4 separate regions of the Homo sapiens genome follow, and regions 1, 3 and 4 are each linked to region 2. Evidence: fine-mapped expression QTL. A gene starts in region 2. Each other region holds a variant in brackets. All regions are shown on one strand. Distances are between the middles of the regions.

Region 1 (5,847 bases), 72 kb after region 2:
ACCTGCCTAAGCCTCCCAACGTGCTGAGATTACAGGCGTGAGCCACCGTGCTCGGCCTGAGTTTTTAAAATTCTTTGAATATTCTAAATATGAGTAATTTGCTGGATATGTGATTTCCAAATACCTGTATTTTTCTCCCAGTCTGTTGCTGGTCTTTTCACTTTCTTAACTAGTTTTCTCAGAACAAAACTTTTCCTTTTTTTTTTTTTTTTTTTTTTGAGATGGAGTTTTGTTCTTGTTGCCCAGGCTAGAGTGCAATGGTGCAATATTGGCTCATTGCAACCTCTGCCTCCCGGGTTCAAGCAATTCTCCTGCCTCAGCCTCCCAAGTAGCTGGGATTACAGGCATGCACCACCATGCCTGGCTAACTTTTTGTATTTAGTAGAGATGCAGTTTCACCATGTTAGTCAGGTTGGTCTTGAACTTCAGACCTCTGGTGATCCACCTGCCTTGGCCTCCCAAAGTGCTGGGATTACAGGTGTGAGCCACTGCACCTGGCCAAAAATTTTCAATTTTGATGAAGTATAATTTATCAATATTTTCTTTTATGCATTGAGTTTTGGTGTTATATTTAAGAGGTTTCTTTTTCCCCCTTGCAGAGGCAATGTCTTGCTCTGTCACCCAGGCTGGAGTACAGTGGCATAGTCATAGCTCACTGCAGCCTCGACTTCCTGGGCTCAAGTGATCCTCCTACTTCGGCCTCCCAAAGTACTAGGATTACAGGCGTGAGCCACCATACTCAGCTGATAGCTAAAAGCTTTCATCCAAGATCACAAAGATTTTCTCTTATGTTTTCTTTTTTTTTTTGAGACGCGGTCTCACTCTGTCGCCCAGGCTGGAGTGCAGTGGTGTGATCTCGGTTCGCTATAACCTCCGCTTCCTGGATTCAAGCGATTCTCCTGCCTTAGCCTCCTGAGTAGCTGGGACTACAGGCATTCACCACCATGCCTGGCTAATTTTTGTATTTTTAGTAGAGACGGGGTTTCACTATGTTGGCCAGGCTAGCCTCAAACTCCTGACCTCAGGTGATCCACCCGCCTTGACCTCCCAGAGTGCTGGCATTACAGGCATGAGCCACCGTGCCCGGACCTCTTACATTTTCTTCTAGAAGTTTTACAGTGTCAGGTTTTACATTTAGATCTATGATCCTTTCTAGTTTCGGGGTAAGGTGTGAGGTTTAGGTTGAAGTTCACTTTCCTGCACATGGATGTCCGGTTGTCCCAATGCATTAAAAAGAATATCCTGGGGCGGGTGCAGTGGCTCATGCCTGTAATCCCAGCACTTTGGGAGGCCGATGCGGGCAGTTCACGAGGTCAGGCGACCAACACCATCCTGACTAACACGGTGAAACCCCATCTCTACTAAAAATACAAAAAATTACCTGGGTGTGGTAGAGTGCGCCTGTAGTCCCAGCTGCTCGGGAGGCTGAGGCAGAAGAATCACTTGAACCCGGGAGGCCGAGGTTGCAGTGAGCCAAGATCCCACCACTGCACTCCAGCCTGGGTGACAGAGCAAGACTCCGTCTTAAAAAAACAGAAAACAACAACAACAACAAAAAACTATCCTTCCTCCACCACTGAACTGATTACCTTTGCACTTTTGACAAAAATCAATTGAACATATTTGTGTGGATCTATCTCTGGATTCTCTATACTGTTTCAATGGTCTATATGTCTATCTCTTCATAGATATCACAGTCTTGAGAACTGTACAGCTTCATAGCAATTCTGAAAAATTGGGTGCTGTACTTCCTTCCACATTATTCTTCTGCAAAATTGTCTGGGCTACTCTAGTTCCTTCACCCTTCCATTTGAATTTTTAAATTATTATTATTATTTTTGGAAATGAGGTCTCACTCTGTTGCCAAGGCTAGAGTGCAGTGGCACGATCATGGCTCACTGCAGCCTCAACCTCCTGGGCTCAGGTGATCTTCCCACATCAGCCTCCTGAGTAGGTGAGACCACAGGCATGCACCATCACACATGGCTAATTTATTATTTGTAGAGATGAGGTCTCACCATGCTGCCCAGGATAGTCTCAAACTCCTGGGCTCAAGTAGTCCTCCCGCCGTGGCCTCCCAAAGTGCTGGGATTACAGGCGTAAGCCACTATACCTGGCCTCCATTTGAATTTTAAAATCAGCATGTCTATGTCTAATAAAAAATCCTCAATTGAAGTAAATTTATACATTTATTAACTTGTGGAGAATTGACATGTTATTGAGTCTTCATATCCATAAGCACAGTACATCTCTCCACTTATTCAGGTCTTCATTGATTTCTTTCATCAGCAGTTTTTGGCATATAGATACTACATGTATTGTGTATTTCATTAGATTTATACCTAAGTATTTAATTTGGAGCTTTTTAATTTTTTTGAGACAGAGTCCCACTCTGTCGCTCAGGCTGGAGTGCAGTGGCAAGATCTCAGGCTCACTGCAACCTCTACCTCACAGGTTCAAGCGATTCTCCTAACTCAGCCTCCCGAATAGCTGGGACTACAGGCGCCCACCACCATGCCCAGCTAATTTTTGTATTTTTAGTAGAGACAGGGCTTCCCCATGTTAACCAGGCTGGTATCGAACTCGACCTCAGGTGACCCACCCCCTTCTGCCTCCCAAAGTGCTGGGATTATAGGTGTGAGCCACTGTGCCCAGCCAATTTGGAGCTTTTATTACTGGTATTGCTTTTCTAGATTCAGTTTCCAATTGCTCACTGCTAGTCTAAAGAAATGTGATGGATTTTTGGCAGGGTGCGGTGGCTCACACCTGTAATCCCAGCACTTTGGGAGGCCAAGGTGGGTGGATCACCTGAGGTCAGGAGTTCCAGAGCAGCCTGGCCAACATGGCGAAACCCTGTCTCTACTGAAAATACAAAAAATTAGCCAGGCATGGTGGGGGGCACCTGTAATCTCAGCTACATGGGAGGCTGAGGCAGGAGAATTGCTTGAACCC[G/A]GGAGGCGGAGGTTGCAGTGAGCCGAGATCACACCACTGCACTCCAGCCTGGGTGACAGAGCAAGACTATCTCAAAAAAAAGGGAAAAAAAAATATATATATATATATGGATTTTTGGCTGTTGACCTTGTATTCTTGCAATCTTGTTTAACTCAAGGTTCTGGAAACCTTTTTGTAGGTTCCTTGTGATTTTCTACATAGAAATCATCTCATTTGAATGGGGACAGTTTGATTTCTTCCTTTTCAATCTGTATGCCTTTTATTTATTTTTCTTGCCTCTTGGCACTGGTTAGGATTTCCAGTGTGATGTAGAAGAGAAATGGTAAGAGTGGACACCCTAGTCTTTCTCCCAATTTGAAAGCAAACACAGTCTTTCATCATTAAATAGATACTGTTTATCAGATCAAGGAAGTCTCATCTATTCCTAGTTTGCTAAGAGTTTTTTTAAAACATGAATGGATGTTGAAGTTTGTTGAATGCTTCTTCTGCATCAACTGATATGATTACATAGTTTTTCGTTTTTACTGTTAACTTGATAGATTACATTAACTGATTTTTTTTTTTTTTTGAGACACAGTCTCGCTCTGTCGCCCAGGCAGGTGAGCAATGGCGCAATCTCAGCTCACTGCAACCTCTGCTTCCCGGGTTCTAAGTGATTCTCCTGCCTCAGCCTCCCAAGTAGCTACATGCATGCACCACCATGCCCAGTTAATTTTGTATTTTTAGTAGAGACGGGGTTTCACCATGTTGGCCAGGCTGGTCTCAAACTCCCGACCTCAGGTGATCCACCCACCTTGGCCTCCCAAAGTGTTGGGATTACAGGCGTGAGCCACTGCACCTGGCCTGATTTTCAAATATTAAATCAGTCTTGCCTATCTGGAAATCCCACTTGGTTATGTTGCATTTTTCTCTATTTTTTTTTGAGACAGGGTCTCACTCTGTCACCCAGACTAGAGTACAGTGGTGCGAACACAGCTCACTGTAGCCTTGACCTCCTGGGCTCAAGCAATCCTCTCACCTCAGCCTCCAGAGTAACTGGGACTACAGGCACGTGCCATCAGGCTAGGCTGATTTTTTTGTTGTTGCAGTTTTGTAGATGGGGTCTTGCTATGTTGCCCAGGCTGGTCGCAAACTCTTGGCCTCAAACAATCCTCCTACTTCGGCCTTTCAAAGTGTTGTGATTACCACTGTGAGCCACTATGCCTGGTCTGTATTACTATTATTATTATTGTTATTATTAGAGATGGAGTCTGACTCTGTCACCCAGGCTGGAGTGCAGTTGCACAATCTCAGCTCACTGCAACCTCTGCCTCCCAGGTTTAAGCGATTTTCCTGCCTCAGCCTCCCAAGTAGCTGGGATAACAGGCGCCCACCATCATGCCCAGCTAATTTTTGTATTTTTAGTAGAGACGGAGTTTCACCATGTTGGCCAGGCTGGTCTCTAACTCCCCACCTCAAATGATCTATCTGCCTCAGCCTCCCAAAGTGCTGGGATTACAGGCATGAGCCATCGCGCCCGGTCTGCTTTGTATTTTTTTTTAATTATCCTTCCATGTCTGTGGGGTTTATAGTGACAACTCCATCTGTACACTCTCCTTTTTGTCAGTATTGCCAGACATTTATGAGTTTTACTAATCCTTCTGAAAAACCAGCTTTGGTTTCATTGATTTTTCGCTACTGTTTCCTTCTTTCAGTTTCATTGATTTTTCGCTACTGTTTCCTTCTTTCAGTTTCATTGATTTCTGCTCTTTACTATTTGCTGCCTTCTGTTTGGTTCAGGTTTATTTTGCTCTTTTTTTTTTTAAAGTTTCTTAAGGGAGGAGCTTATATTAATAATTTGAGGCTAGGCGCGGTGTCTCACGCCTGTAATCCCAGCACTTTGGGAGGCTGAGGCAGGCAGATCATTTGAGGTGGGGAGTTAGAGACCAGCCTGGCCAACATGGTAAAACTCCATCTCTACTAAAAATACAAAAATGTGCCAGGCATGGTGCTGCATGCCTATAATCCCAGTTCCTCAGGAGGCTGAGGCAGGAGAATCACTTGAACCTGGGAGGGGGAGGTTGCAGTGAGCCAAGATCACATCACTGCACTCCAGCCTGGGTGACAGAGCAAGACACCATCTCAAAAAATAATGATGAGAATGATTTGAGACCTTTCTTCTTTTCTAAGGTAAGAATTTAATACTATAAAGTTTCCTCTAAGCATTGCTTTGGCTGCATCCCAGAAATTCTGATATGCTGCATTTTCATTTTCATTCAGTGGAAAATATTTTTTCCCTTAAGACTTCCTCTTAGATCGATGGATTAGTTAGAAGTGTGTTGTTCAGGGCCGGGCACGGTGGCTCACACCTGTAATCTCAGCACTGTGGGAGGCTAAGGTGGGTGGATCACCTGAGGCCAGGAGTTGGAGACCAGCCTGGTCAACATGGTGAAACCCCATCTCTACTAAAAATACAAAAATTAGCTGGGTGTGGTAGCACGTGCCTGTAATCCCAGTACTAGGGAGGCTGAGACAGGAGAATTGCTTGAACCCAGGAGGCAGAGGTTGCAGCGAGCCAAGATTGCGCCACTGCACTCCAGCCTGGGCAACAGCGCGAGGCTCTGTTTCCAAAAAAAAGCAGCATGTTGTTCAACTTCCAAGCACTTGGGTATTCTCCAGTTTTATTTGTATTACCTATCTGTAGCTTAATACTATTATGGTCTGAAAATATACTTTATAGAATTTTAATTCTTTTAGATTAGCTAAGGTTTGTCTTATGACCCAGGATATGGTCTATCTGGGTGTATGTTCAATATGTACTTGAAAAGAATGTGTATTCTAATGTTGTCAGGTAGAAGAGTCTATAAACATCAACTAGATCTAGTTGGGTTTTGGTCTGGTTTAGTTCTATATCCT
Region 2 (5,847 bases):
GGTCGAGCCCTAAGCCCTAAAGTTCTGCTAGTGGAGCTTATCTGGTCATTATACAGATGAGGAAACTGAGGCCCAGAGAGTGGAAAGGCCTTGCCCAAGAGGCACAAAATCAGGATCAGGTCTCCCTTACCTTGCCCCAACTCACATATTTCTTTTTCTTTTCTTTTCTTTCTTTCTTTCTTTTTTTTTTTTGAGACAGGGACTCCCTCTGTTGCCCAGGCTGGAGTTCAGCGGTCAGATCTCGGCTCACTGCAACCTCTGCCACCTGGGTTCAAGTGATTCTCATGCCTCAGCCTCCCGAGCTGGGATTACAAGTGCATGCCACCACACCTGGCTAATTTTTGTATTTTTAGTAGAGACAAGGTTTCGCCACGTTGGCCAGGCTGGTATCGAACTCCTGACCTCAAATGATCCACCTGCCTCAGCCTCCCAAAATACTAGGATTACAGGCGTGAGCCACCACGCCTGGTCCAATTCATGTGTTTATGAAGTTCCTGTCGACAGACATTTATGTGTTGGTCTCCTTTGTTGGGTGGGCATCTCTGCTAAGTGACTGCAGTGGGCTGCTGCCACCCCTCTGCACTGGGGACACAACATGAAAGAGTGGCCATGAATTTGCCCAAGGGGGTAGGGATTAATGGGAGGGAAACTTGAGGACTCTTATGCACGCAGTGGGACAGACCCTGATTAAACAGGTGCCAACTAAAGGGGGATGTGAAGGAAGGCTCAAGTTTGGGCTCACCTGGGATGCACTGGATGCTCTACTCCTGGGCATGCTCCATTTATTCTCACACGGGCAACCCTAGAAAGCTGCACTATTTTTTGTTTTGCTTTGTTTTTTGAGACAGAGTCTTGCTCTGTTGCCCAGGCTAGAGTGCAGTGGCATGATCTTGGCTCACTGCAACCCCCGTCTCCTCGGTTGAGGCGATTCTCCTGCCTCGGCCTCCCGAGTAGCTGGGACTACAGGTGCCTGCCACCACGCCCAGCTAATTTTTATATTTTTAGTAGAGACGGGGGTTTCACCATGTGGCCAGGCTGGTCTGAAGCTCCTGACCTCAAGAGATCCGCCAGCCTTGGCCTCCCAAAGTGCTGGGATTACAGGCATGAGCCACCAGGCCCGGCCTGAAAGTTGCTCTATTTTTACTCTCATTCCATGGACTAGGAAGCTGAGGCACAGACAGATGAAGTGACCTGCCCAAGACTACACCAGCATGGTATAGCTTGAAACCTGGGCGTTCTGACTGTAGAGACCATGTTTTGAGACAGGGTCTCACTCTGTCACTCAGGCTGGAGTGCAATGGTGTGATCACGGCTCACTGCAGCCTCCTTGTCCTGAGCTCAAGTGATCCTCCCACCTCAGCCTCCCAAGTTGCTAGGACTATAGGTGTGCACCACCACAGCCTGCTAATTTTATTTATTTATTTATGTATTCATTTATTTATTTAATTTGGAGGTGGAGTCTCACTTTGTCACCCAGGCTGGAGTGCAGCAGCGCAATCTTGGCTCACTGCAACCTCTGCCTCCCAGGTTCAAGCGATTCTCCTGCCTCAGCCTCCCGAGTAGCTGGGAGTATAAGCATCTGCCATCATGCCCGGCTAATTTTTGTATTTTTAGCAGAGACGGGGTTTCATCATGTTGGCCAGGCTGGTCTTCAACTCCTGACCTCAGGTAATCCACCCTCCTGGGCCTCCCAAAGTGCTGGGATTACAGGCGTAAGCCACTGAACCCAGCTGAGGCCATGATGCTGCATCCAGGAAAAACAGAGATGAATAAAGAATGGAGAAATGAAGGGAAGAAGAAATGAAAGAATGGGAAAATGAAAGAAAAGAGAACAAACAAGTATTTTTCTTCATTTTCTTTTTAATGGAATAGTTGGCATGTAATACTTGTAGCACACGAGTTATAAAACATACTAATAGAATGAACACTTTTGAACTCACCACCAATATAAGACTATAATAGAAAGTTATCGGCCGGGTGCAGTGGCTCACTCCTGTAATCCTAGCACTTTGGGAGCCTGAGGCAGGCGCATCACGAGGTCAGGAGATCGAGACCATCCTGACCAATATGGTGAAACCCCATCTCTACTAAAATACAAAAAATTAGCTGGGCGTGGTGGCGTGCGCCTGTAGTCTCAGCTACTCGGTAGGCTGAGGCAGGGTAATCGCTTGAACCCGTAAGGCGGAGGTTGCAGTGAATCGAGATCACGCCACTGCACTCCAGCCTGGCGACAGAGCAAGACTCTGTCTCAAAAAAATAAAAAAGTTACCAATAACTTCCATCTACTTATGCCAGCAGGCCTCTGCCCAAGTTGTACATTGAACACACCTGGGGAATTTTGGAAAACACTGATACTCTCAGATGGGATTTGGGGTTTGGTTTGGGCATCTGGATTTTTTAAAGGTATCTGGATTTTTTCTTCTTTTTTTTGAGACAGTGTCTGGCTCTGTCACCCAGGCTGGAGTGCAGTGGCACAGTCATGGCTCACGGCAGCCTCGATCTCCTGGGCTCAACTGATCCTCCCGCCTCAGTCTCCCGAGTAGCTGGGACCACAAGTCCCACCATGCCCGGTTAAGTTTAAAAAATTTTTTAGAGACAGGAGTCCCTCTGTGTTGCCCAGGCTGGTATCTGGTGATTCTCACGCGCAGCCAGGTTTGAGGACCACTGACTTACATTCTCTTCCCCCTGGTTTCCACCTTCACCTTCACGTGATGGTAACCACCATCCTGAAATACGTGTAGTGCATGGACGGATTCTTTGCCTCCATGCTTCCCTATTTCAAGGAGCAGCGACGTTTGCTATTTATCTCCCGCTGGCCACGACGGGGCACCAGAGAAAAACACAGGCTCCCTACGCGCTGAAGGAGGCTTGGCCCTTGCGACGCTCCGTCGTCGGGCTCGTTGCCGGTGCAAACAGGGAGGAAACAGCCGGCGTTGCTGTAGCGCGTCTGGGAATTACACCGGGGGACTGGCCGGCCCGCTTCGTGCCTGCGGGAAGTCGGGCCGGGGGACTCTTCGGAAACTCCGAGCCTCAGAGAAATGTGAGTCGGAGGGTTGGACTAGGCCGGATCCGGCGTTAGGGCGGGGGCCCGCAGGCGGCCCGCGCGGGCGGGAACCGGGGCGGCAGTCAGCGGGCGCGAGCTCAGGGCGCCTCCGGGGTCCTCACTGCGCTCCCCACGCGCTGTGACCCCATTTGTTGCACGTGCATGTTCAGGTCGAGAGAGGGATGCGACGTGTTCGGGGAGCAGCCCACCTTGTGGGTGGCCAATCCGGGACGGGAATCTTAAACTTTTAACTCTTGGTGCAAAGACTGATCCACTGGCGGCTTTACGGGAGCGGGAAAAAAGTATGTGAAGCTTGCCACGGTCTCGAGACCGAGGTCACACGTTAGCAGCCTGCCGGCTACATTTGGACCATAGACGCAGAGTGTTTGCCCCCAAAACTGGAGGACCTCCAGAATGAGATTCTTGGCGTGCACCAGGCCTTTTCGCTCATTCAGCCGGCGTTCCTACCCAGGCACTGCATCGACCCTACACTTGAGGACAGCTTTTGGGTCAGGGGAATTGGTGCCTGGAGTGAGACTGCTCTCTGCTTTCAAGGCTCCAGCTGTATCCCTACATTGCTCAGGCAATTCCTCTCTCTAGGTCTCAGCTTCTTCATCTGCAAGATGAAAGGTCTGTCCTCCATGGTAGCCCAACATACTTCCGAGTGTTATTATCAGTCCCCTCCCCGGGGACTGCCAGAGCCAGGGCAGGTTGGTCCCAACAGGCAGCCCCTTGCAGCAGAGAGAGCCTGGGCTCTGGTCTCAGACGGACATGAATTAGGAACCCAGCTTGTTTATCTCCTTTACTTCCTGGCTCTGTGATCCTGAGCAAATCACTTTGTAATGCTTAACGTTGTTTTTACTAACCTTGTTTTTTAATGCCTTACCTTGTTTTTACTAACCTTGCTTTTAGACTCTTTTTTTCCCCTTAATCACCTAGCCTTGTTTCCACATGAATTAGCTCTCCCTTAGTTGAGAAAGCCGGATGAACTCCATCTGGTTCCCTCATTTACAAGACATCAAGGACTCCTTACCCACCCCTTTCCTCAAGGAGTTAACTTGTGTAAGCAGAATCTCAACATATCAAAGAGTCCAATTAACTGATAAGGTACTGAAACAAGCAATGTACGAAGTTCCCAGGATTTTGCTCAAAAGATAACACCATAAAACCTTGAGTTGGTGTCGGGCAGAGCACCCATATCTAACATTTTATGAAAGATTTAGAGCCCCTGCACCTGGAACTGTTGTTTCTCTGTAACCATTTGTCTTTTAATTGTTTCTCTGTGACTCTTTGTCCTTTTAATTTTTGCATGTTTTTACTTATGTAGAATTGTTGCATCTGAGCTCCCCTCCCCTTCCTAAACCAAAGTATAAAGGAAAATCAAGCCCCTTCCTCGGGCCAAGAGAATTTATTAGCCGTCTCTTGGGCACTGGCTAAATAAAGGACTCTTAATTTCGTCTCAAACTGTGGCGTTTCTCTAACTCGCTCGGGTACAACAACTTTACCTCTTCAACGTAAGTTTCCTTACCTGCCAAATAGCGAGGTGATTGTAAGAATGAAAAAAAGTCATATGTATTGAGTGCTTGGCACATACATGTGTTCCTTACATTATTGTCTCTGTTTAAGCACAGCATAAATGCCCCCGATGTGCCTAGTCTAGCAATCTTAGGACAATCCCTGTGTCTGTCTGTTGTGTTCCTGGTGATGGCTGGCCCACAGCTGGGTGCACGCAGTCCAGAATTTTTTATGTTTTTGTTTTTTTGAGACAGAGTCTCACTGTCACCCAGGCTGAGTGCAGTGGCGCTATCATGGCTCGCTACAGCCGTGACCTCCTGGGCTCAAGCAATCCTCCTGCCTCAGCCTCCTGAGTAGCTGGGACTACAGGCGCACCACCACTCCTGGCTAATTTTTGATTTTTTATAGAGATGAGTCTCATGATGTGGCTGGTCTCCAACTCCCGGCCTCAAGTGATCCTCCTGCCTCAGCCACCCAAAGTGTTGGGATTACAGGCATGAGCCACTGTGTCTGGCTAAGGTTTATTTGTTTTGTTTTGTTGTGTTTTGAGATGGAGTCTTGCACTGTCGCCTAGGCTGGAGTGCAGTGGGACAATCTTGGTTCACTGCAACCTCCACCTCCTGGGTTCAAGTGACTCTCCTGCCTCAGCCTCCCAAGGAGCTGGGATTACAGACGCCCACCAGCACGCCTGGCTAATTTTTTGTATTTTTAGTGGAGACAGGGGTTTCACTATGTTGGCGCAGCTGGTCTCGAACTCCTGACCTCGTGATCTGCCCACCTTGGCCTCCCAAAGTGCTGGGATTACAGGCGTGAGCCACGGCAAATTTAAAAGGATGATTTGCAGCACTAGTGGCAGATCATTTTAAAAAATGCTGGTGCCTGGGCCCTACTAAGTTTTTTGATTGAATTAGTTTGGAGTGGGGCTCAGACACGGTTTTGTTTGTTTGTTTGTTTTAAAGTTCCACCAGTTGATTTCACTGTGCAGCCAAGGGGTGGTGACCACTCGTTAAAGGGATGAGGCCAAGCTGGTGAGGGTTCCTGGGATTTGCAGTGGCTCACTTTCCTCCCATTCCTGTTCTCAGATGGCGCTCCCGACGCTGCCGTCCTACTGGTGCAGCCAGCAGCGCCTGAATCAGCAGCTAGCACGACAGCGAGAGCAGGAGGCCCGGCTTCGGCAGCAGTGGGAGCAGAACAGCCGTTACTTCAGGATGTCTGACATCTGCAGCTCCAAACAGGCAGAATGGAGCTCTAAAACCTCCTACCAGCGGAGGTAATTGTGCGGTAACTGC
Region 3 (5,847 bases), 160 kb before region 2:
GGCTAATTTTTTGTATTTTTAGTAGAGAGGGGGTTTCACCGTGTTAGCCAGGATGGTCTCGATCTCCTGTCCTCGTGATCTGCCCATCTCGGCCTCCCAAAAGTGCTGGGATTACAGGTGTGAGCCACCACGCCCGGCCCCCATTATTACATATTTCTATCAGACAGCACTGGTATAGGGTATTTAGGTAGAGGCAAAACCATAAGTGCAAAGGCCCTGGGGTGGGGACAGGGTTGGCTTGTGAGAGGACCAGAAAGCAAGCCAGCGTGTCTGAGCAGGATCAGCCTGGGACAGGGACAGTGCAGATAGACATTGGGAAAGGGATTCACAGAGGTCCTTCAAGGATATTGTTAGAAAAGCCACGGAAGACTGGCGGGATGGCTCATACCTATAATTCCAGCACTTAGGGAGGCTGAAGTGAGAAGGTTGCTTGAGGCCAGGAGTTCAAGACCAGCCTGGGCAACATAGCAAGATCCCACATCTACAAAAAATAATAATTAGCTGGGTGGGGTGGTGCACAACTGTAGTCCCAGCTACTTGAGAGGTTGAGGCAGGAGGATCACTTGAGCCCAGGAGGGAGCTGCAGTGAGCCATGATCATGCCACCGTACCCCAGCCTGGGTGACAGGGCAAGACCCTGTCTCCAAAAAAAAAAAAAAAAAAGCTATGGAAGCCACTAGGTGAGCTCTACGCAGGAGAGATGTGCGCTACACACAGAAAGGCTTGGTCTGGCTCCCTTGAGGTGGAGATTGACGGCAGGGGGGCGATGGGGCACAGGGACGGGCAGGAATCTGTTGTAGAAGAGTTGCTGCCGGGACCTGCTGGTGAATTGGCTCCACCGGATCCGGCTCCGCAGAAAGCTCACTGCTTCCTGTGGCTCCTGGATTTCCAAGCCTCTGGGGTTTCCTGTCTCTCCCGGCACCCGTCTCCACCTCCCCAGCAGCTGTTCCCTGTCATGTCGGTGCATTTACAATGAGCGCCAGTCGCCTGTCTCCAGGTGGTCAGAGGTTGAAATCCCTTTTGAAAAGTTCTTTAAAAAAAAAAAAAAAGAAAGAAAGAAAAACCAGAAGTCATGCATGTTCATTGTGGAAAAATTAGAAATACAGAGAAGCACAAAGAAGAAAAGGAAAATTCCCCAGTTAACCGTCAGCCGCTAGGCTATGACAGGGGGAGGGGGTTGAACCCAGGTGGTCTGGCTCCAGCACTTTCTAAATCACAGTGCCTGTGGCCGGATGACATGGAGGGAGCTCCCTGACCATAGGAGGGGTTAGAGACACGACGCCCCTCTACCCTCACTCACAGCAGAGGTGGAAAGCTGGAGACTGACCCACACATGGGTGGTGAGTGGCGTTTGACTCTTGGAGATTTAAATAAAACAAACATTGAGAGAGCTTATGAACTCTGGGATGTGGAGTGGTGGCGCTGTCATTTGGGCCGAGTGTCCTGTCCTGTTTCCTAACCCCTGCCTCGAAGGCTCCATTCATTTCTGCCCCAGCCTGACCCCCAGAAGCATCTACTGATCTTAGCATTGGGCTAAAAGCTAAGGCCAGCCCTTGCCAGCCACTTTTGTCCACTCTCCTCCCCCGACCTGGGCCACTGCGTCTTCTAAACACTCTTGGGTCATTCTTGCACAAGGACCCAGTCTTCTTCCTCCCCGTCCCTTGGGGCCTGAATCCTCAAACCCTGTCTGGCCCAGGCCAACCTCTTCCGTGGGGCTTTCCTGCCTGCTCCACCAACCAACCCCGTGGTCCTGGACAGCTCCCTTCCCTCTCTGTTTCCTCGTGGGTACAACGCCAATCATGTCTTTCTCCCGGTTGTGGCGTGGGTTACGTGAGGTGACGTCTGTAAAGTACTGAGCCTGTGGAGAACACTAAAAATAAAAGCTAGCTCTTATTGCTCTTACTATTAGATTTTTCTCCTTCCCCGTTGCCTGCTTTAACCCTGAACTGTGGGTGCAGGGACTGGGGGAATAGGTGGGAGGAAGGCTAGAGATACCGGGCCCCTCCCATCTCCACTGTGGGTCTTACCTTTGCCCGTTGCACACAGTGTTCCGTCTTCCGGGATCCCAGTGTCATCTGGTGGCATCCCTCCTTCCCTCTTTTGGTCTCCATTTCCATGTTGTTTCTCCAGAGAGATTCTATGACCACTTCCAAAAAAAACTGGGCGGGGGGCTTTCGGCTGAGCTCACAGCCCCATTATGACATCGTAGTACTGAAGCTGTTCAGTATCGATTCTCAGATCTCCCCACTCATTCTTTGCTGGAAGGTGATGACGGAGTCTTACTTGACTGACAATTTTCATTAAAGAGCCGAGGCTGGAACTAGGAGAACAGAGGCTCAGCCTGCCCCTGGCTCCAAACTTTGCACCTTGGGATCCCTGGCTCTCTGGGAAGAGTGAAACTGCCCTTCAGAGGTCCATGGCTCTGGGAGAGGGCCAGCCAGGCCTGTTGCCAGTGGCAGTGACTGCCCCTCCTTCTGGCACCTTCTCTGAGTCCCTGTCCTGAACTAGCACTAGTGCAGAGGAAACAGATCTCCCCGCTCTGAGGTTGGGGGGGTCCCTGCCTGGCCCTGCATAGGTGAGGTGCTCTCAGTGACTCACCAGGAGGGTTTGCTCTCCAGCAGCCTGGAGCTCCTTCATGTTCTCTGTTTGCTCCTCTCTCTCAAGTCTCCATGTGGTGGCCTGTGCAGTCCCTTCTGTGGGATCCTTCCCTTCCCCTAGCTTTTTCCTACTTACCTGTTGATAGCGACCATAAACAATGCTAACAACGGGTACCACTTAGGCAGCTACCACAAGGACCCTGGCACTTTGTTGTAAGGAATTAACCCCTTTTGCAGACGCAGAAACTAAGGCTCAGAGAGGAGGGAGGGATTTGCCTAAGCTCACAGAGTTAGGGTGTAAAGCTCAGACATCCGGATGTGAAGTCGGGGACAGACACTGTCGCTCTGCTAATGAGGCAGCTGGTGTGTCCTTACATCATGACCCCCCCAGGCCAGGTAGGGTGACCCCAACATGGCCACCGCTTGTCTCCCTGCCTTGTAATTACCCCTCTGATGCCTCCCATCCACTCAGGGTCTGTCACTGCCCCAGCATCTAGCACAGGGCCTGGCCTGGCACATAGTTGGTGTTTAATCTGTCATGCCGTCCCCAGTGGTTGGAGTGCTGACGGAGGCACATCGCAGTTGTCAGTTCCCATGGCGACTGACATCACTATGCTCTCAGGCTGTACCCCGCCCCTTTCTCCAGGGCTCTTGCGCCGGGAGCTGGCCGTGGTGCTGACAGGCCCAGGAATGGCCACCTACCCCCAGACCCCAGCTGTGTGTCCCAGTAGGACACTTCCTGAGGCCCACCCTGCCCCAACTCCCTAGGACAGCCTCTTGCCCATCCTTTGTTCAGGAGACGTTTTCCTGAGGGCCCTGTGCTCAGGCACTGCTGTAGCACCGTGAACCCATAGAGGAAGGATCAAGGAGAGCCACATGGGACTCCAGTCATTTGA[C/T]GATTCATCAAACATTTATTATGTACCTTGTATGTCTTGGAGAAGCCCTCAGGAACCCGGACTCCAATTGAAGGTCGAGTTGAGTTTTAAGGGGTAGAGAGCCAGAAAGGGCTTTTGAGCAGTCCTTCTGCTCAAAAGTCCTTCCTGGCTCTTGGGATTGCATGGGCCAAAGCCTGCAAGTGTGCAGGTGAGAGTCTTGTGCAGAGGGAAGCCCACCTCAGGACTCTGGCTGCCAGCCAGAATTGGTGATTGTCACTTTACTTTTTGGTCTCCCCTTTGGCTCAGAACTGCCAGCATCTCTGGCTCTAGTGCCCAGCCCAGAACCAGGCACAATGGAGGGGTGTTGGAGCCAGGCAGGGGACTGGCATCTTTGTCCTAGAAACCAAAGAGCCAGGTATGCTCTGTGACAAGATTTGCAGCATTTTAGAGAGCCCCTGGCCTGCTGGGGTGGGGACAGATACAGTGGTAATTCTGGCAGAAGATGAGGCCTCCTATTCAAGGGGACAGTACCTCCCCAGCCCCCAACCTTAAAAAAAAAAAAAAAAGGTAAAAATCCCCTTCTGGTGCTGAGGCCCAAATGGCAGTGGGAAATAATCACTTTTCACAGGCCCCTTATCCACAGCCAAGCCCTGTGCCAGTTTAATCAGCAGTGCCGGTGTGACTTGAAGAATCCCCGGCTTGAGAGATCAGGAGAGGGGTTAAAGAAAATTACCCTCGCCTCCTCCATGCTAATGTAATCTCTAACCAGATCTGCCTAGCCGCAGCTCAAATTGCTTTTTAGATTAACATTTAATTATTAACAGGGTCCCTTGGAAGGCCTCCGGCTCAGAACAGAGATGGGGGAGGGAGCGGCAGGAGGGAGGTGGGGATGGGCTTCTACTCTGGCTGCCTTGCTGAGACAAGCGGGGTGGGAGAGAGAGGAAGGAGCAAGGGAAGAGGGGTCAGGAAGGGAGAAAGAGAGAGAGACAGCAGGAAGGAGAAGGGAGGCATCAGGACAGGAGGCAGGTGGAGCTAAGGACAGGGATGTAGACAGAGGAGAGGAAAGAGACAGACAGTGGATCTTCCTGTCGTGGGAGCCCCTAAGGGGGTTGGGGGAAGCTTGCACCTAGATTCCTGAGGACATTCCTGGGCTGGGCAAGGGTCCCTCCACTCTTCCTGGCCAGAAGCAGGTTTGCTGCCCCTCATTATTTAGAGAGGTCTGGACTTTCTGAGGCTTTCTACTTGCTCAGCTCGTGGTGCTGGGGACCAACACAGAGAAGTGACCCATTTAGGGCCACACCACCAGGGTCTGACCCTAGTATTCCCAATCCAGCATTCATTCTCTTCCCCGGGCCCTGGGCCTCTCACCACCATTTCAGGCTCCTATCTGCCTTTGGAGCAGGCTGTGTGGCCAGGCAGCGTGAAGAGACTTGAATTACAGCCAGAGGGATGGAGGTGAGAACTGTGGGAGGGCTCCCTCACCACCCACCTATCCTGCCACCACCCCCAGGAAGGCTGCGAGGCCCTGAGGAGTGGCCAGCATCTCATTCACTTCCTGAAAGGGAATTCAGAGTCTGAACCATCTACTCTACTCCTTGCATGATGAACTGCTGGGTTTTGCCAGCTTCCTATCTTGTCCCTGCTCGAGATTCTAAGTCCCTCAAAGACAATGGCTACGTCTAGAGCCCCTTTGTGTGCCCACAGTTCAGGGACTGCCCCACACCTTGTACACAGCTGGATTAAGTTTGGAAACCAAATGATCACATCCTCTTATGTCCAAGTTAGATGGCCCTCATACTATCAGCTGGTCCACTCCCCATAAAGGTTCATTTGGGAAACAGACTCAGAGAGGTGCTGTGACTTCCTCCAGGTCACCCAGCCAGTGAGAACCCCAGTGCCTGGCCCCTGCCTGGCAGGTACAACCCAGAGGCCTCTGGGGCCAGCTCTCTTCTCTGAACTAGTCCTGTTGGACACCAGGAAGGGCCTGGCATGACCTTCCCCTCCAGGTCACAGCTAGGCTTTGGCCTTGAATGGAGCCACAGAAGCCAGGTGGGTAGCTCTAGGGATTGGAGGTAGAGGAGGAGATGGGGGCTCAGAGGCGCAGCCCATGGCTTTCCCGGGGTCACAATCTCAGGGCCCTGCCGTGAAGCCAGGTGTGTCCTCCTCCTATTCTGCCTTGGGGTCAACCCAGCCTGGCAAGGGGCAGACTGCTGACCTGTGGACACGAGGGAAAGTTCCAGATGCCTGCCACATCAGGAAAATGCTGGAGGCAGAGAGAGGTCAGGAACATTCATTTTTATTGGGAGGTCAGTTCTGGCTAGATGTTCCTTTCTGGCAGGACACTTTGAGTCATTTCCGTCCTCCCAGTACATGGCA
Region 4 (5,847 bases), 830 kb after region 2:
AGAGTGCAGTTCTGACAGAAATATGCCTCTATGCACTGTTTCTACAGGAAACTGATGTTCTGAGTTTAAAACCTAGTCACATACCTTGCAAGAACAAATTTCTCTGGATTGGTTGAGGATTGTCCAATTGTCCAGATGCCTTTGTTTCCTGTACTTACTATACTAAGCACAATCTTTAAAAACCAGGAGTTTGGCCAGGCGCGGTGGCTCACACCTGTAATCCCAGCACTTTGGGAGGCCGAGGCGGGCAGACCATCTGAGGTTGGGAGTTTGAGACCAGCCTGACCAACATGAAGAAATCCCGTCTCTACTAAAAATATAAAAATTAGCTGGGCGTGGTGGCGCATGCCTGTAATCCCAGCTACTTGGGAGGCTAAGGCAGAAGAGTCACTTGAACCTGGGAGGCGGAGGTTGCGGTGAGCCTTGATTGTGCCATTGCACTCCGGCTTGGGCAACAAGAGCGAAACTCCGTCTCAAAAAACAAAACAAAACAAACAAAACAAACCAAGAGTTTGTCCTTAGTCTCTTTTCCTGGGGAATACAGGGACATCTAAAGGTTTAAACCTATACCTCTCCTTTGAGAGTTAGAGCCAGCCCAAGCAACTGACCTGAACCACACCTCCCACCCTGTAATGCAAATCAAGCAGCTTAGGGAGTTTACCACAGGGCTTGAAATGAAATGTAAATTCAACAAATGTTTGCCTTCTCTCTGCAGAGGAGTGTTATCTTTTCTCCTAATAATTTCTGGTTTCTCAATGACTGGGTCTAACACTGACTATGGTTCACCCTGTTGCATATTTCTTTAGAGGTCCTTCACTAGGGGGTTCGGAAAGTTTAACAAACTTCTCCCGCCAGGCTGAGGAAGGAAAATTGCTTGAACCTGGGAGGCAGAGGTTGCAGTAAGCCAAGATCGCACCATTGCACTCCAGCATGGGCAACAAGAGTGAAACTCCGTCTCAAAAAAAAGCAAACTCCTTCTTACGAAAGGCTGAAGGGCAATCTCCAAAAACCACCAACTCCCATTTCCAACAGCAATACTACTACTACTACCACCACAGGATGAGTATCCTTAATCCAAGATGCTCCAAAATTTGGAACTTTTTGAGCACTCACATGATGCTCAAAGGAAATGCTCACTGGAGCATTCTGGATTTCAGATTTTTGGATTAGGGATGTTTAACCAGTAATTATAACACAAATATTCCAAAATTAAAAACAAAAACAAAAAACCTGCAACACTTCTAGTGCCAAGCATTCCCGGTAAGGAATACTTAACCTGTATTATAAAAACAGAGCTGCTGTCTTAGCTCCCCAGTGACAGTGACTTCCTCTTTCCCCAAGGTCAGCTTCACTTCTGGATACTTTTTTTGAGGTGGGGTCTCACTGCATCACCTAGGGGGAATGAAGCGACGCAATCTTGGCTCACTGCAACCATGGTCTCCCAGGTTCCAGTGATTTTCCTGCCTCAATCTCCTGAGTGTCCGCGACTACAGGTGTGCACCACCACAGCTAATTTTTGTATTTTTAATAGAGATGGGTTTTCCCCATGTTGGTCAGACCTCCTGACCTCTTGTGATCAGGTTGAACTCCTGACCTCAAGTGATCCACCCACCTTGGCCTCCCAAAGTGCTGGGATTACAGGCGTGAGCTACCACGCCCCGGCTTTGATTCTTTAGTTATGCCACATACTCCAGCTTCTCCTGCTGATTCCTGCTGGCTTCTCCATCAAAAATCAGTTTGTTTCCTCCTTTTCCCTCTCAGCACTTTAAGCGTGGGCCTGCCTCTTTCTATTCTCTCTTCATTTCCTCCCTAAGGCTACCTCAGACCACTAGGAACATCTGGCTCCTGAAAGGTTTAGCCAGGGTAATCGCCTAGCTTCCAAATCCTAAGATTCTGAGCCATAACCTGTAATGCGGTTTCGCATTACTGTACATCAGACAGCTACGGCAGCAGAAACAGATCAACAAACACTCATGTTTTACCCAACAACATATACCTCAGCCTTTCCATCACATTTACAAAGTTAAAAAAAAAAAAAAAAGAAATGGTAGTATAAAGTACTTATGTACCTGGAAAACAGGCAGTGGTTTTTAAATTGTCCCATGAAAATCAACATTTGAATACAACTTTTCATTTTAATAAAATTAGTTAAGTATTTTATATATATATTAAATGTCTGCAAGCCTTCAACCAAAAGCCACCTATGTCAAGGGCACTTTCATGCCCACAAGTAGACTGGATGGCAAATTATATCTGCCTGATGAGAGAGAGGAAGCTTGAGCATAAGATCTACAAATTGTGTTGATGACCAAACAGGAGTCGAAACTGATACCAACCAACACTGATCTTCTAAGTCATTTTTTAAAGGCCTCTGCATTAAGTAGAAACCGAAACTGATGCAGCCAGTATCATTACATTAGGATACACGTCACAAAAATGAGGTCAACTGGATTTGAATTCATCAGTGCAAACATGAAAAGTATTTGCTGGGCTAACAGCTATGTAAAAGGAATCCTTTAACTCAAGAGCAGGCCAGGCACGGTGGCTCACGCCTGTAATCCCAGCACTTTGGGAAGCAGAGGCGGGCGGATCATGAGGTCAGGAGATCGAGACCATCCTGGCTAACACAGTGAAACCCCGCCTCTACTAAAAATACAAAAAATTAGCCGGGCGTAGTGGCGGGCGCCTGTAGTCCCAGCTACTCGGGAGGCTGAGGCAGGAGAATGGCGTGAACCCAGGAGGCGGAGCTTGCAGTGAGGCGAGATCGCGCCCTGCACTCCAGCCTGGGCGACAGAGCGAGACTCCGTCT[CA/C]AAAAAAAAAAAAAAAACAAAAAACAAAAAACTCAAGAGTAACACTTGGAATAAGTATCCAAAACACAGTGTTGGCTGGGTGTGGTGGCTCATGACTGTAATCCCAGCACTTAGGGAGGCTGAGGTGAAAGGATTGCTTAAACCCAGAAATTACAGGTGGTAGTAAGCTATGATCCCACCTCTGCACTCCAGCCTAAGGCTCTGTCTCAAAAACAAACAAAAAAAACCCATCACACCTGCCTTGCATTTCACTACCTAAGGAGTAGTAACTGGCTTACTGGTACTTCTCTGACACAGAATCACTGTTAATATTGAATACCTTTCATGTACAAGTTCAATGCTATCAGTCAGTCCAGAACCCATAGAATTTTTGTCCCTGATGATTCCTGCCACCCCATCTTATCAGCTGGATCTCAAGGTCACAGACCAAGCAAACATCCAGTTGTGGGAAAGGGTGGTAGTAGAAGGGCTCAGTTTGTGAATATAATCTTTCTAGGATGCACTTCTAACAAATGTGCTAGCTCAACATATCTATGTGAATTGAGATGGAAAAACACTGCATCTGGAGACTCTAGGTTACGATGTGGTCTAGGGGAGGGCCACAGGGACAACCCTTTGCTGATATCCCTATAATCATATTAGCAAATGCCAAGTACCTGAAGTTCCTTAACCACCTCTTCACTCCAAACCTGAAACCCGTCCTGGCAGCAATGATGAGCACAAAAGGAAGGTGAAGGTAAAGATTCAAAACCTTTTCTGACTTGAAACCCTTTACTGAACTGATATTTTCAAAGCTTTTTTTTTTTTTTTTTTTTGAGACGGAGTCTCACTCTGCCACCCAGGCTGGACTACTGTGGTGTGATTTTGGCTCACTGCAACCTCCGACTCCTGGGTTCAAGTGATTCTCCTGCCTGAGCCTCCTGAGTAGCTGGGACTACAGGCATCTGCCACCACGCCTGGCTAATTTTTGTATTTTTAGTAGAGATGAGGTTTCCTCATGTTGGCCAGGACGGTCTTGATCTCTTGACCTTGTGATCCACCCGCTGTGGCCTCCCAAAGTGCTGGGATTACAGGCGTGAGCCACTGTGCCCAGCCTATTTTCAAAGCTTTAAGAACTGTGTTTTGTCAATAGTCAAATCGAAGTATACCTTTAATTAAACAATCCAAAATGGGTCACAAAATGTGTAAAATACTGTAAAAATAATCTTTGTTCAGCACATTTTAGTTTTAGGAAAGTTATTGCCATTCTTCCTGGGTGTGGATATGCCAGAAGGAGAAAAACTATAATAATTTCAAAAACTAATTATTTACGTATTGCAAGATTCCATTTGCATGCAATATTCTCTAGAAAAGACAAAAAGTAGATTAGTGGTTGCCTGGGGACTATGGTGATGGTCGCATAACTCTATAAATTTACTACAAATCGCTGAATTGTACACTTTTAACAGAATAATTTTATGGAATGAAATTACATAATAAAGTTGCTTAAAAAAACTATTTGGAATGGTTCTCAGATTTCTACTAAGAATTAAGTTATCTGTGAATACAACAATTTAAATCTTAAAGCAACCATTACCATGATCATTACTTCCTAATCTGATCATCACATCATAAAAGAATCCAAGACCTTATTTTATTACAGCGGCAGTGTTATTTTTCTACCCAAGAGAGAAAAAACTGGCTGGGCATCATGGCTCACGCCAGTAATCCCAGTACTTTGAGTGGCCTAGGCGGGCAGATTCCTTGAGCCAGGAGTTTCAGATCAGCTTGGGCAACAAGGTGAAACCCCATCTCTTCAAAAAAATACACAAATTAGCCAAGCGTGGTGATGCATGTCTGCAGTCCTAGCTACCTGGGAGGCTGAGGCAGGAGGATTGCTTGAGCCTGGGAGGCAGAGGTTGCAATGAGGTAAGATGGTGCTACTGCACTCCAGCCTGGGCAACAGAGTGAGACTCCGTTCCCCCACCCCCCTAAAAAAGCTAAGCTAAAAACAAGTTGATGAAATAGAAAACATGAGAGATGATACCACTGCATCTAAACTCTCACAATTCCTAACAGAAGTATGTGATAATTGTTTATGATAAATATCTTAATTTCAATAACTCTTCCTTAGATATAGAAAAGTACTTACATTCATCATAAAATCCATAAATTCTGTTGATGCTGGCACATTCATGGTTCCCTCTGAGAAGAAAAAAATTCTCAGGATATTTTATTTTGTAGGCCAGTAAGAGGCAGATCGTCTCCAATGACTGCTTTCCCCTGTCCACATAGTCCCCAAGAAACAGGTAGTTGCTTTCTGGTGGGAAACCACCGTACTCAAAAAGTCGCAGCAAATCATAGTATTGTCCATGGATGTCACCTGGAAGCAAGAATTTTGTTACACAGTGTTCCCATACTTAAAGCTCAATCCACTAACAAAGCTTTGGAAAGACATTCTTTAAATATTCATTGTACAATGGCATTGACCTCTAGTAATGAGAGTTTAACTGGGCAGCCAACACTAAGTAATTTCCAATCTTATATCATATTTAGTTCAACTGAGCTTAACAAAAATTTTAAGTATATGTGTATGTCCAGAACCTCACATAAAATTCAACTATTAAGAATTTATTCTGTGGAAAGGGTTATTATGTCCAAGCATGCATTCTTGCCAAGTAACATGGTATCCCTTTCAGGCTGACTGATCAATATCAGATCTCTGACAGCTCAGTCTCTGGGTACTGTGTCAGCAGAACTGCTGCACTTCTAGTGAGTCTTGGCCCCATCTGAACAAAAGCACATACACACATACACACCACCCCCACCCCCCACCCATCAATGCATTTAGCTTTCAATTTCTCCCTGCTAGATAATGCCAAAGAACATTTTACTTTTAAAAACATGAACACAAAGTTTTATCAATGCAAATATGCTATAAGAATATATTACTCAAACGAATAAAGTTTGGTTTTACATTGAGTTAAAACACAGATTATTTGCTTCTATTATGCAGAAAACAGAACCACAAAATCAGTATCAAGGAAGTTCTATTTTT

Which allele goes with the higher level. Positions count from the first base shown, and alleles are read on the strand shown. Sizes are in standard deviations (SD) of each study's normalised expression. Not every link is listed here.
With allele T in place of C in region 3, the expression in whole blood of the gene that starts at base 2,888 in region 2 is lower (large effect, 1.9 SD a copy in Lepik 2017).

What was found. PIP is the estimated chance that this variant, and not a neighbour inherited with it, causes the effect.
Region 1: its variant is the best candidate, but not a certain one, in a credible set for the expression of TCHP in tibial nerve (GTEx, PIP 0.73).
Region 3: its variant is the best candidate, but not a certain one, in a credible set for the expression of TCHP in whole blood (Lepik 2017, PIP 0.90).
Region 4: its variant is the best candidate, but not a certain one, in a credible set for the expression of TCHP in whole blood (INTERVAL, PIP 0.78).

The regions. Positions count from the first base shown.
Region 1 is chr12:109,968,967-109,974,813 of GRCh38, forward strand. All of the region lies in intron 7 of GIT2 (GIT ArfGAP 2), which reads right to left. LOC124903013 (a long non-coding RNA gene) reads left to right here and starts at 4,471. Exons shown (of 3, transcript XR_007063456.1): 1 at 4,471-5,121. The variant G/A (reference allele first, on the strand shown) is at 2,953.
Region 2 is chr12:109,897,387-109,903,233 of GRCh38, forward strand. TCHP (trichoplein keratin filament binding) reads left to right here and starts at 2,888. Exons shown (of 13, transcript NM_001143852.2): 1 at 2,888-3,040; 2 at 5,641-5,828. The coding sequence starts at 5,641. RefSeq lists enhancers at 2,611-3,451, 3,452-4,292 and a silencer at 3,109-3,218.
Region 3 is chr12:109,733,565-109,739,411 of GRCh38, forward strand. The region is part of intron 1 of FAM222A (family with sequence similarity 222 member A); the gene reads left to right. FAM222A-AS1 (FAM222A antisense RNA 1) reads right to left here. Exons shown (of 3, transcript NR_026662.2): 2 at 2,027-2,257; 3 at 645-1,029. Among named protein-coding and RNA genes, the nearest start is that of FAM222A, 23 kb to the left of the region's middle. RefSeq lists a silencer at 3,107-3,307, enhancers at 3,212-3,711, 4,215-4,359, 5,796-5,847 and a cis regulatory region at 4,281-4,294. The variant C/T (reference allele first, on the strand shown) is at 3,493.
Region 4 is chr12:110,725,588-110,731,434 of GRCh38, forward strand. It overlaps PPP1CC (protein phosphatase 1 catalytic subunit gamma), which reads right to left. Exons shown (of 7, transcript NM_002710.4): 3 at 4,942-5,172. Among named protein-coding and RNA genes, the nearest start is that of PPP1CC, 14 kb to the right of the region's middle. The variant CA/C (reference allele first, on the strand shown) is at 2,810.